2 linked regions of the Homo sapiens genome follow. The protein of the gene in region 2 interacts with the protein of the main gene of each other region in a pairwise test. Each region holds a gene or a part of one and is shown on either strand. Other genes may lie near its edges. The genes, in order: RAB39B and SGSM3.

Region 1 (4,288 bases), on a different chromosome or scaffold from region 2:
TTCAACTGCTAGCATTTGTAATGAACTCTCCACGTCACAGAACACTTTAATATCCATTGTTTCATTTTGCCTCATGGTAACACTGTGACTTGGGTATCCTATTTTGCAGAAAAGGAAGTCTCTGTCAGTTATTCAGATTTGGGGGGTGGGAGAGTTAGTTGTAGTTTTACCTGAAGGCAAGAAATAGAACTCAGTTATGTCCCAGGGTCACTCTCCAGTGCTGAATCCATGGAAAATGCCTAAAAGTTCATGAACATTCGTTTCTAGAAGATGCCCATCTCAAAGTTTGGCCCAATTGGAAACTCACATATTAGTAGTAGTATGGAATGCCATTTGTATTCCTTTGTTTTTTTAAAAAAAAAGAAAATCATTTTTATTAAAGGACTGTGTCACTAACCAGGAACACTTGAATATACTGAGTTCATTGACATGCAGAAGTTTGGGCACAGCCTTTACTCTTTACTTCTTTCTTGTGTTTTAGATCCATCACTCGCGCCTACTACAGGAACTCAGTAGGTGGTCTTCTCTTATTTGACATTACCAACCGCAGGTCCTTCCAGAATGTCCATGAGTGGTTAGAAGAGACCAAAGTACACGTTCAGCCCTACCAAATTGTATTTGTTCTGGTGGGTCACAAGTGTGACCTGGATACACAGAGGCAAGTGACTCGCCACGAGGCCGAGAAACTGGCTGCTGCATACGGCATGAAGTACATTGAAACGTCAGCCCGAGATGCCATTAATGTGGAGAAAGCCTTCACAGACCTGACAAGAGACATATATGAGCTGGTTAAAAGGGGGGAGATTACAATCCAGGAGGGCTGGGAAGGGGTGAAGAGTGGATTTGTACCAAATGTGGTTCACTCTTCAGAAGAGGTTGTCAAATCAGAGAGGAGATGTTTGTGCTAGTCAGTTCTTTTATTTCCAAAACATGCTCTCCTACTTGAACTGAAAAGTAAGAGAAATAAATAGAATCTTTGTGTAACTGATGAGAACTCAACCTCCATTTGGATACCAAGTGAGCCTCCCTCTCAGGGGGACTCTGACAGACTCGTGTGCGGGTGGATGGGGGTGCCTGAGTGCTGTGACCAAGGGACTGAATTGCTGACATGGGCCAGGCCAGGCACTGTTTTGTGGCCCATGCTAGGCAGTGGCTGCTCCATGAGCCCTTTGTGGACCACATGTTAAAGGCCTGGGGTTTAGGAAGCTAAGTCCCAGGAAAACATACCTACAGACAGGACAACTGTTCCTTGGTATTTGAGCTCACTTATAGGCCATGAACATAAAGAAATACATAAAGGGGAAAAAAGTTTCACAATGGGGACAATTAGCATAACTAAACAAAGATTATGAGCTCTACTTATTCCGTGAGAATACCCTGCACCAAAGGTGTTTGCTGGGTTTGGTTAAAAGGTACCAATTAGCTTTTAACAGCTTTCTGTAAAATGAGGAACACAGACCAAAAGGTCTGGTGTTCAAGTAAAAATGATGTGACTATGGAAAGGAAGGCAATCGACACAGTTATTAGCACATTTCAGAAAATGAACACCCTTGTGATAGAATTACCAGCTGTATGAAACAAATTGTCCCATGCAAATTACCCTATAACTAGGAAAGAGACACTATAACCCAAATGCCATACCCCCTTTTTCCTTTGACCATGCCTGGGGTTTCAATGCCTTGGCACCTGCAATCTGGAAGTAAACAGTCTGCTTGCTTCTTCAGGCACGTGACAGTGACAACACAGTGACTGCCTCTGAAAAGAGCCCTGAGGCAAACACTCTCTCCTGCTGAACAGGAGGCACTGTAACCCTTACAAACAGCTTACAGTTACTTGGGCTACTTATTTGATCATCATAACAGGCCTACGAGGTTTTTGCCCCATTTTACAGAATAGTAAACTAAGAGCCATGAAAATCACTTGGCCAGGGTCAAGGACTCGTGACTCCTAGCTCTTTTCACTGCATCATACTGCTGTCAGATGAATAAATGATTATGAATTTGTTTACTTGGGAAGAGATATGACTATAAATAAATGTTCTCTACATGTTAGGATATGTTTTCCTTATTGATTACAACTCAGCTATAATCCTGAGGGAACATGGGAAGGAATCAAAGGTAAAGCCCATTCAGGCATTATTGACAAGAGGGCTTTAAACAAGTGAATAATTGCACAACTAAAAAGACATTAGAACTGTGTGGGCTATAAGTGTTCTTATCACTGAGACACAGTGGATTTTTATTGAAAGGAACCACGTACAGCAATGCGGAGTGGGATAGGGATAAAATACCCACCCCAAAATGACCTTGGCCACCTGTCTGCCATATACGTACACTGAGTTCCTGTCTACCCAAGAGAGTCAGCCCTTAATTCTCAGGTGAACAAACAGCTAACTGCATCAGCAAATTGGAATGGCTGGCTTGAAGTTTCCATTATTTTCTTGAAGAGAGGTGATGCTTTAAATTACTTTTTGGATTGTAGCCAGTTCAGCTAGGCAAAAGCCATACTTTTCACAATTAAAAAAAAAAACTATTCTGACTAGAGTCAGGTTTCTCATATCCATTGTGATAGGAAGGCCTAAGAATGGCAAATCGCTTTGAGATATAATATTGAACTTCAGTATGAATGTGACCGAATCTGAAACTTTGGGAATTTGCTTTAGCCAGAATAAAGAAACCAAATCATGAAAATTATGGAAGACTATTCTGCCACCTGTGCCCCAAGTTGGATGAGCAAACCACTTTGGATCAGTTCACAGCATTAACTACAAGTGAACTGATCATCTTCTCTATATTCATTTCACAAGAGCTGGCTTAGGTGGGGTAATTAAATTGCCACCTTCGTGGTTGTAAAAGACAAACAAAACATGGCAAATTTCATTAACACAAAATTTCATCAACTGCTATACTGAATTATGTTTAGAAGATTCTGAAAGCAAGATTATCCAGTGGGTAAATGAGAGTCGACTGGATTCTGTCAGTTCAAAAAAGGAAAGAAACAAAACTTCCCTACAATTTTCTTCACTAAAATTTATTATATGTACAGTATTCCCACTCCTGGCATTTTCTGGCAGGTTTAAAAATATTCAGCATAAATCCAGCAGAGGTGGCTGAGCTTAATTGCTTAAATAAGTTCTAGAAAATTTAAAAATCATTTTAGTAGAATTCAGTACCATTGTCACTGCAATAAGTGGGTTTTAGAAAATAAGTGTGAAAAGAATCAGGTGTTAATATAATACTAAGGATAAAGCTTTAGAAGCTATTTTACTACATAGGTAAAGAAAAGATAAACTAACTTGTAACAAAGACCACAACTGCATGTTGGATTAGATTGTCTCATATTTCAGAATAAAATGTACTGTATACTTTTCCTCACTTTGTTGTGCACTGTAATGAAATGTGAAAAATGCTTTATTTAGCTGTATGTGAATGAAAATATGCTTGTATTTAGTAAAATGATTGATTATGTGACTGTGAGATTCCAAGTGTGTGTTATAGCTATTTCCAGAATCTGTTACTACAGCGTAGCAACTACTACCAAGGATATCAATAAGATGTGACATATACCATACACAATCGTATTCACCATTACCTTAAAGCCAGAAAGAGAATATAATTTTTGAAAGTTATCTGACCATCATATCAAAAGTCCCTGGGACCTCAATACTTCCTGGTGAGCATATGCCACTTTGAGAAAAGTTGGTTCTGTCAAGCCTAAATCTTCATCATGATGATTTTTAATCAAGAGTCTTAATTCTGTTGCCAAGTAGTTGATTACAACTATTATGTTCCCTGGAAAGTCTTCTTTTTTCCAGGCTAAGTTGCCTCAGCTTTTTCAAATCCTACTACGGCATGCTTTTTATGCCAGGATCACTTACAGTGTGGCACCAACATAAGAACACAATAGTTCAGCACATTTCCCAGGATTGATAGTACACATGAGGGTGGGGGGAGGGTTAAAAAAAAAAGGAAAGATAATGGATTCTGAGTCTGGGCATAAGTAGATAGGTAGCCTAAGTTCTGTACAGCTTTATCACATTTATATTAATTCTCTTATAGATTTAAGAGACGTGGCTCCAAAAGTCATTGCTGACAGCTCAACCTAGAGTCTTACTCTTTAGTCTTCCCTGGGTAACAATAAAGTGTAGGGCACACAGAAAAGGGAAAGGAAACTTACAAGGAGACAATGAAATCCTGGAGAGTACAGTTTTATAGGATGGTGTGAACAGTAGTATCAAAATGCAGCAGTCGATTCAGAAAGATAAAAACTAAAATGAATCCGCAAGATT
Region 2 (7,858 bases):
AGTGGGAAACATACATTGACATGTATAAACTACCCTCTCTCATTAATCTCTAAACTACCTGAGGGCAAGATCCATGTCTTAGCCGTCTTTATAAGTCTAGAAGATGATATACACAGTAGATATTCAATAAATCGTTGAGAGGAATTCATGAGAGTAGTTTCAACAGAGTTGAGGGTAGAAGTCAGACTGCAATGAATGAAGGAGTAAATGGAAGAGAAGAATGTAGAGTCTGCTTCTTAAGGACAAGTCTAGAAAGGAAAAGCAGGAGAAATGGTAGTAATTTGAAGGGAAATATGATCACAGGAAAGTTTCATATATTTTTAAGAATGAGAAAGACTTGAACACAGTTGTTGATAAGGTAGTACAGCACAGACAAAAGAGCAGAGTTTAGAGTCAGGTAGACTTAAATTCTGGCCCTGTCACTTACAGTGACCTGTGACAACTAGTGTCTGGTAAGCAGAAGGCATCCAATAAGTGGTTTCAATGATTATTACTACAGGTAGGAGTGGTGTTCTAACCCCTCCCACATATCTTGTGCTCCAGTCTAGATTCCCTAAGTCTGTGTATAATATGTGATGGCAAAGAAACAGGATCTTTTTTTCTTCTGTAACACTCATTGTGCTATTCCCATTTCCTTGTGACAGTCTGCATGAGCTCATGAATGGCTGCTGTGGAAAATTACTGACGTCACCAGCTGAATAACAGGCTATCTGGAGAGTAAGCAGATGAAACTGATGTTAAATTATCAAATGTACAAGATTTTGGGCTCCTGCCAAAACCTTCATTGAGAACTAAGAAGAGAAAAACTGAAAACACACAGAGCTTTTTTTAAGCTTCTGAGCCAGCAGGCTGTTCCTACATCCACTCCAGGCATAGAAAGATGGCTGTAAAATAAAAGAGATGATTATCTCCTCCCTTCCCTTCTCAATATTTCACCCTAATGTCGGGTTCATTTCTGTGAGGTTCTACCCGAGTTCACTTTTCTATCAACCTGACATGTTTCCAAATTCACGAGGTATGCGTTTTTATATTGAAGCAATTGTTTGTTTACAGCCTTTTAATGTTCTGGTCATGGGTTATGTTAACCTATTACCCATATCTGATCAATAGACACCTCACCCTCTCCCCTCCCAGACCACACACCTCCACGCTTAAAAAGGGACAGGGAGGGCCAGGCACGGTGGCTCACGCCTGTAATCCCAGCACTTTGGGAGGCCGAGGCGGGCAGATCACGAGGTCAGGAGATCGAGACCATCTGGCTAACACGGTGAAACCCCGTCTCTACTAAAAATACAAAAAATTATCCGGGTGTGGTGGCGGGCACCTATAGTCCCAGCTACTCGGGAGGCTGAGGCAGGAGAATGGCGTGAACCCGGGAGGCAGAGCTTGCAGTGAGCCGAGATCGCGCCACTGCACTCCAGCCTGGGCAACAGAGCGAGACTCCGTCTCAAAAAAAAAAAAAAAAAAAAAAGGGGGGGGGGACAGGGAGAAGAACTAAAGCTCAGGCTACTATGATAATTAGGGATGAAAAAGCTACATTCACTTAGGATTATCAAAAGCCAGGAAAGATATCTATAGAATTACAAATTAATCGGGCCTGGCGCAGTGGCTCACGCCTGTAATCCCAGCACTTTGGGAGGCCCGAGACGGGCGGATCACCTGTGGTCAGGAGTTCGAGACCAGCCTGGCCAACATGGCGAAAAACCCCGTCTCTATTAAAAATACACAAATTAGCCGGGCGTGGTGGCGGGCGCCTGTAATCCCAGCTACTCGGTAGGCTGAGGCAGGAGAATCACTTGAATCCGGGAGGCGGAGCTTGCAGTGAGCCGAGATCATGTCATTGCACTCCAGCCCGGGCAAGAGCGAAACTCCCGTCTTAAAAAAAAAATAGAAAAGAAAAGAAAAGAAGAATTACAAATTAATCACCAAGAACAGAAATAGTGTAAAAACAAAGATGTAATTCAACTGTTTAGAGTGCAGAGATAATTGGAACTAAAAGAGCAAGAAAAGCGGGAAACATATGTACCTATAAACCTAATCACAAACCTGTCACAAAAACTACGAGTAAACGAGTCGAAGTTGAAAATGAGTTTTTGTGAATCAGAGTCTGATTTGACTTGAATTTACTAAGAAAGAATAAGAAAGGTGTAGAACATTCCAGGACATCTCTATCCCACCGCAAAACAAAAAAGAGCCATCAACCCACCACAAACGTGCAGCGTGAGACTGGAAGATACACTAGTCACCCAGTCACTGAAAACAACCTTTGAAACATCTTTATTTTTCTTTCCAAATAAAAAAGAGCCTAGGTCAGTAAACTAAGTATGAGAATAATTTTCAAAATTCCAGTCCTAACCACACCGGATGATTCTGGCTAACGTATGCCTCAGTTTCCCCCGTGCTAAAATGCAAACACACCGGTGTTCCGAGTCTCGGGCCTGGATCCGAGCCCGGGTTCTGCACCTGGATCTGAATCTTAAAGGGAAAACCGCAAGTTAAACCTGAGGAGGAGTCTGCAGCTGTCCCGGTGCCAGAGCCAGCCAGGCTCTTTTTAGAAAGCCCCCCGCCTCAGGCGCGGTTTTCGTAAAACCGCTCCCGGCTGCCAGCGCGGTGGATTCCGGCTGGCGCCCCGAACACCTGAGGTGGCCTCGGCCGTCTAGGGGCGGCCGCACCGGAGGACGCAGCCGACCTCCCCGCCCCGCCGCGTCCCCGGCCCCCATTCCAACGGCGACGCGAGCAAGGTCGGCCCGGCGGCTCTCCGGCCCGAGGCGGTGCTTCTCTCGTGGGCGCCTTCGGCCCATACGACCCTCGGTCGGACAGTCCGACCACAGCCGCCCCGCAGCCCCCGCCTGAGGGGAACTTGTAGGCGCCGGTGGGTCTCCGCTGACTCCCGCCCCGCACTCACCTGCCCCACGGGCCACCTCAGCGCCAATCCGGGTCGGGTTAGCAGCTTCCCCACTCGCACCCAGTCAGCGCTCAGCGGCGCCTAAGCGCACGCGTGGCGGGGCGTGGCATGGGCGGCCGCGGGTCATGCTGGGGGCTGTAGTCGTTCCCGCCCACTAGGCGGGGCGCGTCCAGGGGCTTTGCGCCCCCATCCCAAGGCCAGCATGCATAGCGATGATTTCTTCGTCTGCACCGCAGCCTGAGAAGCTTGGGACAGTATGGTGTGGACCAGCAGTCAGGGTGGTGGGAGATAGACGCTGCAAATAACTTGCTAATTTTTTTTTTTTTTTTTTTTTGAGATGGAGTCTCGCTCTGTCACCCAGGCTGAAGTGCAGTGGCGTGATCTCGGCTCACTGCAACCTCCACCTCCCAGGTTCAATCAGTTCTCTGCCTCAGCCTCCCGAGTAGCTGGGATTACAGGCGCCCGCCACCACGCCCAGCTAATTTTTTTGTATTTTTAGTACAGTATTTTTAGTAGAGACGGGGTTTCACCATGTTGGCCAGGCTGGTCTCGAACTCCTGACCTCAGATGATCTGCCCGCTTCAGCCTCCCAAAGTGCTGGGATTACAGGCGTGAGCCACCGCGCCAGGCCGGAAAACGAAATTTTCTGAGTACCTTCTGTGTCAGATTCTATGCTGTGCAATTCCCATCTCACCAACCCTCACATCCACCTAGGCTTCATATCACCTTTCTAGGGACTCCTAACCCTCGTGCTTCCACTAAAGCTGTGTTTACAAACATCAGGCTCTCCTGGTTCTTAAATGAAACTGAGCATCAGCCAGGGAAAGAGGGCATTAAGTGTCCAGGTGTCTGACTTCAGCTGAGCAGACATTTCATCAGTTGCCCCAAGTTCTGCCCAGAACCTGACATCTGGGTAGTTCTGATGCTGGAGTCCGTGTGAATTTAAACCAATCTTAAAGAAAATACAACAGCCTGGGTTAACAGAGTGAGACCCTGTCTCTACAAAAAACAACAAAAAATGAACCACGTGTGGTTGTGTGTGCCATAGTCCCAGCTACTCAAGAGGCTGAGGTGAGAGGATCGCTTGAGCCCAGGAAATCAAGGCTGCAGTGAACTGTGGTCATGCCACTGCACTCCAGCTTGGGCGACAGAGCAAGATCTTGTCTATATATATATATAAAAGATAGATATATGAATGTATATTATATATAATATATATGAATGTATATTATATATAATATATATGAATGTATATTTTATATATATACATAAATGTACATTTAATATATATATGTTTTCCAGTGAACACGCAGACCACCCATCAAATTAAAATGTTACATGGGAAAATCAGATTACAAAGTTGCATACAAGTATGTAAATACAAAAATAAAGGAGAATGGAAAAGGAAAGAAGACAAGAGATGCACCAACAAATCCACCCATTCAAATAGTCCAGGAAGAAACCAGGTCAAATCGCCAATCACTGGAGATCATTAGTCTAACAGAATTGTTAGGACAGGAACAAGACTGTTATTTCCTTATTTTCTATGAGGAAATGTATTAACTAAAATCCATGGTATCCTATATCCCCAGTATCTGTTATGTAATATAAATTCTCACATTACAGATAAACTGATAGTAGTTGCTGCCTCCAAGTTGCCCATAGCAGAGAAGGAAGTAGACAGAATATCTGGTCAGAGTCCCATGACTTAATTTCCTTGTGTCAGACTTAGTATCCTTTCAAGATTTTTTCTGTTTTGTTTTTTCAGATGGAGTCTCGCTCCGTTGCCCAGGCTGGAGTACAGTGGCATGATCTTGGCTCACTGCAACTTCTGCCTCCCAGGTTCAAGCAATTCTCCTGTCTCAGCCTCCCAAGTAGCTGGGACTATAGGCGCCTGCCACCACGCCCGGTTGATTGTATTTTTAGTAGAGACGGAGTTTCACCTTGTCGGTCAAGCTGGTCTCGAACTCCTGACCTCAGGTGATCCACCTGCCTCGGCCTCCCAAAGTGTTGGGATTACAGGCGTGAGCCACCACCGCACCCGGCCCTTTTCAAGATTTTTTAGAGATGAACAGAGTAACTCTTTCTGGAAGTTGAGCAAATGGCTCTATGCTATCCCTGCTTGCTTGCTATACTAGCCTATGTTCAGAATTTGGTTTTCAGAATTGTCTTCTATTGTTTTTCCAAAAGGATAAGCTCTTCTCTTAGGTTGGCTTTAAGTGACAAGGGCTCGCTGTCACCCAGCCTGGACTAAACTCTTGGGCTCAAGTGACCCTATCGCCTCAGCTTCCCAAGTAGCTGGGACTGTAAATGCGCATCATCGCAACCTGATTTCCTGGCTACTTTTAAATAAAACTGGAACCGATTCAGCCTCCTCTCCCTCACAACATTCCTAACGAGGCAGTCTTCCAGCTTCTGCCTGACCTGGGGGATTGAGTGTAGGTTGCTAATCTCAGTGGTTCCAATGTCTGGCCCCAAGCCAGTCTCAGTAATGGGTATTGAGCTCAGTGTGTCTCTTGGGGCAACACACAATCAAGTCACTCTTCCTGCACCTGGCAATATTTGAAGTGCCGAGGAGTTTTCTTCTGTATAGGATAAAGAGCCCTAACATTCCTCCACCACAAGATCTTTTTGGAGGTTGGCTCTCCAGTTCATCTCTATTCCTCAGACTGGGTATCCAAAATTGAATGTAATGCCAAGAGTGCGGAGCAGTAAGCCTCTGGTGGCTTTTTGGGCACTGGACAACCATTAACACCTCCTAAAACAGTCTTCTCTCAGTTCTGGTGCATACTGAGTTTAAGATTAACTTATTTACATTGATCTTTATTAACTTTTTCCTCTAGTTTAGGACACATCATTTCAGCCGATTTAGGTTAGAGATGAAAACTTATTTTACCAAATAAACATACTTGTTAATTCTCCCAGTTTTGTGTCATCTGCAAATCTGATAAACAAAAGCTTTCATTTTCATCTATGCCGAAAAATATGTAGGATGAGAATGGGCTAAATAACACTAGTGCTCTCCTGGCAGGTAGGTAATTAACTCAATCTTTGGCTACAGTTGCTTCAATCAGCTATAAATCCATGCAACAAGGAAGTCGGGCGCAGTGGCAGAAGCTGGAAGACTGCCTAGTTGCCAAGTATCTGATGTGCTCTTGCTATTGGAAATACAACAAGGAATGACACAGACAACGTTCTTGTCCAATGGCACTTGCTTACACTGTAAACAAGTAAAAAAAGAAAACAAGATTAGGCTGGGTGTGGTGGCTCATGTCTATAATCCCAGAACTTTGGGAGGCTGAGATGGGCGGATCACTTGAGGTCAGGAGTTCAAGACCAGCCCGCCCAACATGGCAAAACTCCATCCCGTCTAAAAATACAAAAATTAGCCAGGCATGGCGGCAGGCGCCTGTAATCCCAGCTACTTGGGAGGCTGAGGCTGGAGAATCGCTTGAACCTGAGAGGCGGAGGTTGCAGTGAGCCAAGATTGTGCTACTGCACTCTAGTCTGGGTGACAGAGCAAGCCTCAACAACAAAATCCATGCAACAAGGAATAAAGACTGTCAGCGGCCCTGATGAAATCAATATACTCAATTAGCATTTCCCTGCTGTATAAGCCTTATCAAAAGATGAAATGAGCTTGGGCACAACTTCAGCTCAATCAGCCTGATGGTCACATCAGGGTTTGGTTCTTTTTTTTTTTTTTTTTAAGTATTTACTGTAGTTCCAAACTTCATCACTTATACTAGCCAAAAATAACCGAAATAAAAGGTATCTGACCATTGACTCAATCACTGAGTCCAGGTTATTTTGCTAGACCTAGATCAAATTCACTTTTAGAAGACAGGACCAGAAATTTCTTGCTACTTTACAAGCAAATGAACACGTGAAAAGGACTAAACTTGAGGCAGCTGGAAAATATGCCTTGAAAGAACAGAGATCAAGTATGAACTACATTTACTATGCAAGAGCAGAGTCAACTTCAACGCTCTTTGTTTTTGCCTTGTTGAGAAATGTGAGACTGAGAAACAGGAAAGCACCATGGGAAGAAGAAAGTGCTGTACTAATTTAAGGTAACAATTCTCGAGGTAAAATAAGGCATTATAGTAACACAATTTTCATGCCTCAGCAATTAACAATGATTTTCGTTTAATTCTCTTCCAACTCTACAGACATAATTCTGCTTTCACCTTCATCACGCTTTCATATGGTTTTAACAGGGGATACACCTCCTCTTCTAAGAATCTCTGCACCTGCCAGAGGAAAGCAAATACAAGACAAAAGAAAATGTTAAGATATTAGCAGATAATACCTTTTCCAATGTCAGGGGATACCACTGAAACCTAATTTGATGAAGCTTTTACTCCAACACTGAGCTTGTTTTCCTCAACTGCCTATCAGGAATTTCTGCCTAGACACAGATGATTCAACCACCATGCCCACATGCTCACCAACCTTTCCCGCAAACTGGCCCAGCCTGTGTTCTCTCAGGTGGTTTCACCATTTCCATCCAACCTAAAAATCACCACAGCTTCTTTCCTCCTGCTTCCCAGCCCTCTTCAAGTAGCCACCAAGAGCTTAACCTCCTCTCCCTCCCCGGTCTGTGTCTCTCACCACTGCCTTCACTCAAGCTCTCATCATCTACTGCTTGGCCCGTTGCAGTAGCCTCCTTATTGGTCTCCTACCTCCAGTTTTAGTCTTTTAGCCCTCAGTCCTTGCACGTACTGCTTGGTATCATAATGACCTATTTACAAGTATTCACCACTAAGTTTTGAGCTCTCTGAAGATGAGGATTATCTATTCATCTTTGTATTTTTTTTAAGACAGGATCTCATTTTGTCACCCAAGCCAGAGGGCAAGGGAATGAATATGGCTCACTGCAGCCTTGACCTCCTAGGCTCAAGCTATCCTCCCGCCTCAGCCCTGAGTAGCAGAGACTACAGGCGCACACCA

What was found.
Region 1: the proteins of SGSM3 (region 2) and RAB39B interact in a two-hybrid assay, tested with the Homo sapiens proteins (one study listed by BioGRID).

What each region holds. Positions count from the first base shown.
Region 1 is NC_000023.11:155,257,423-155,261,710, reverse strand, and holds the end of RAB39B (ras-related protein Rab-39B), read left to right. Parts: intron 1-481; coding exon 482-908; 3' UTR 909-3,476; downstream 3,477-4,288. UniProt on the Homo sapiens protein: The small GTPases Rab are key regulators of intracellular membrane trafficking, from the formation of transport vesicles to their fusion with membranes.
Region 2 is NC_000022.11:40,365,736-40,373,593, reverse strand, and holds the start of SGSM3 (small G protein signaling modulator 3), read right to left. Parts: upstream 3,001-7,858; 5' UTR 2,906-3,000; intron 1-2,905. Other genes in the region: ADSL (adenylosuccinate lyase), read right to left, coding at 5,976-6,125, 7,096-7,158. UniProt on the Homo sapiens protein: May play a cooperative role in NF2-mediated growth suppression of cells.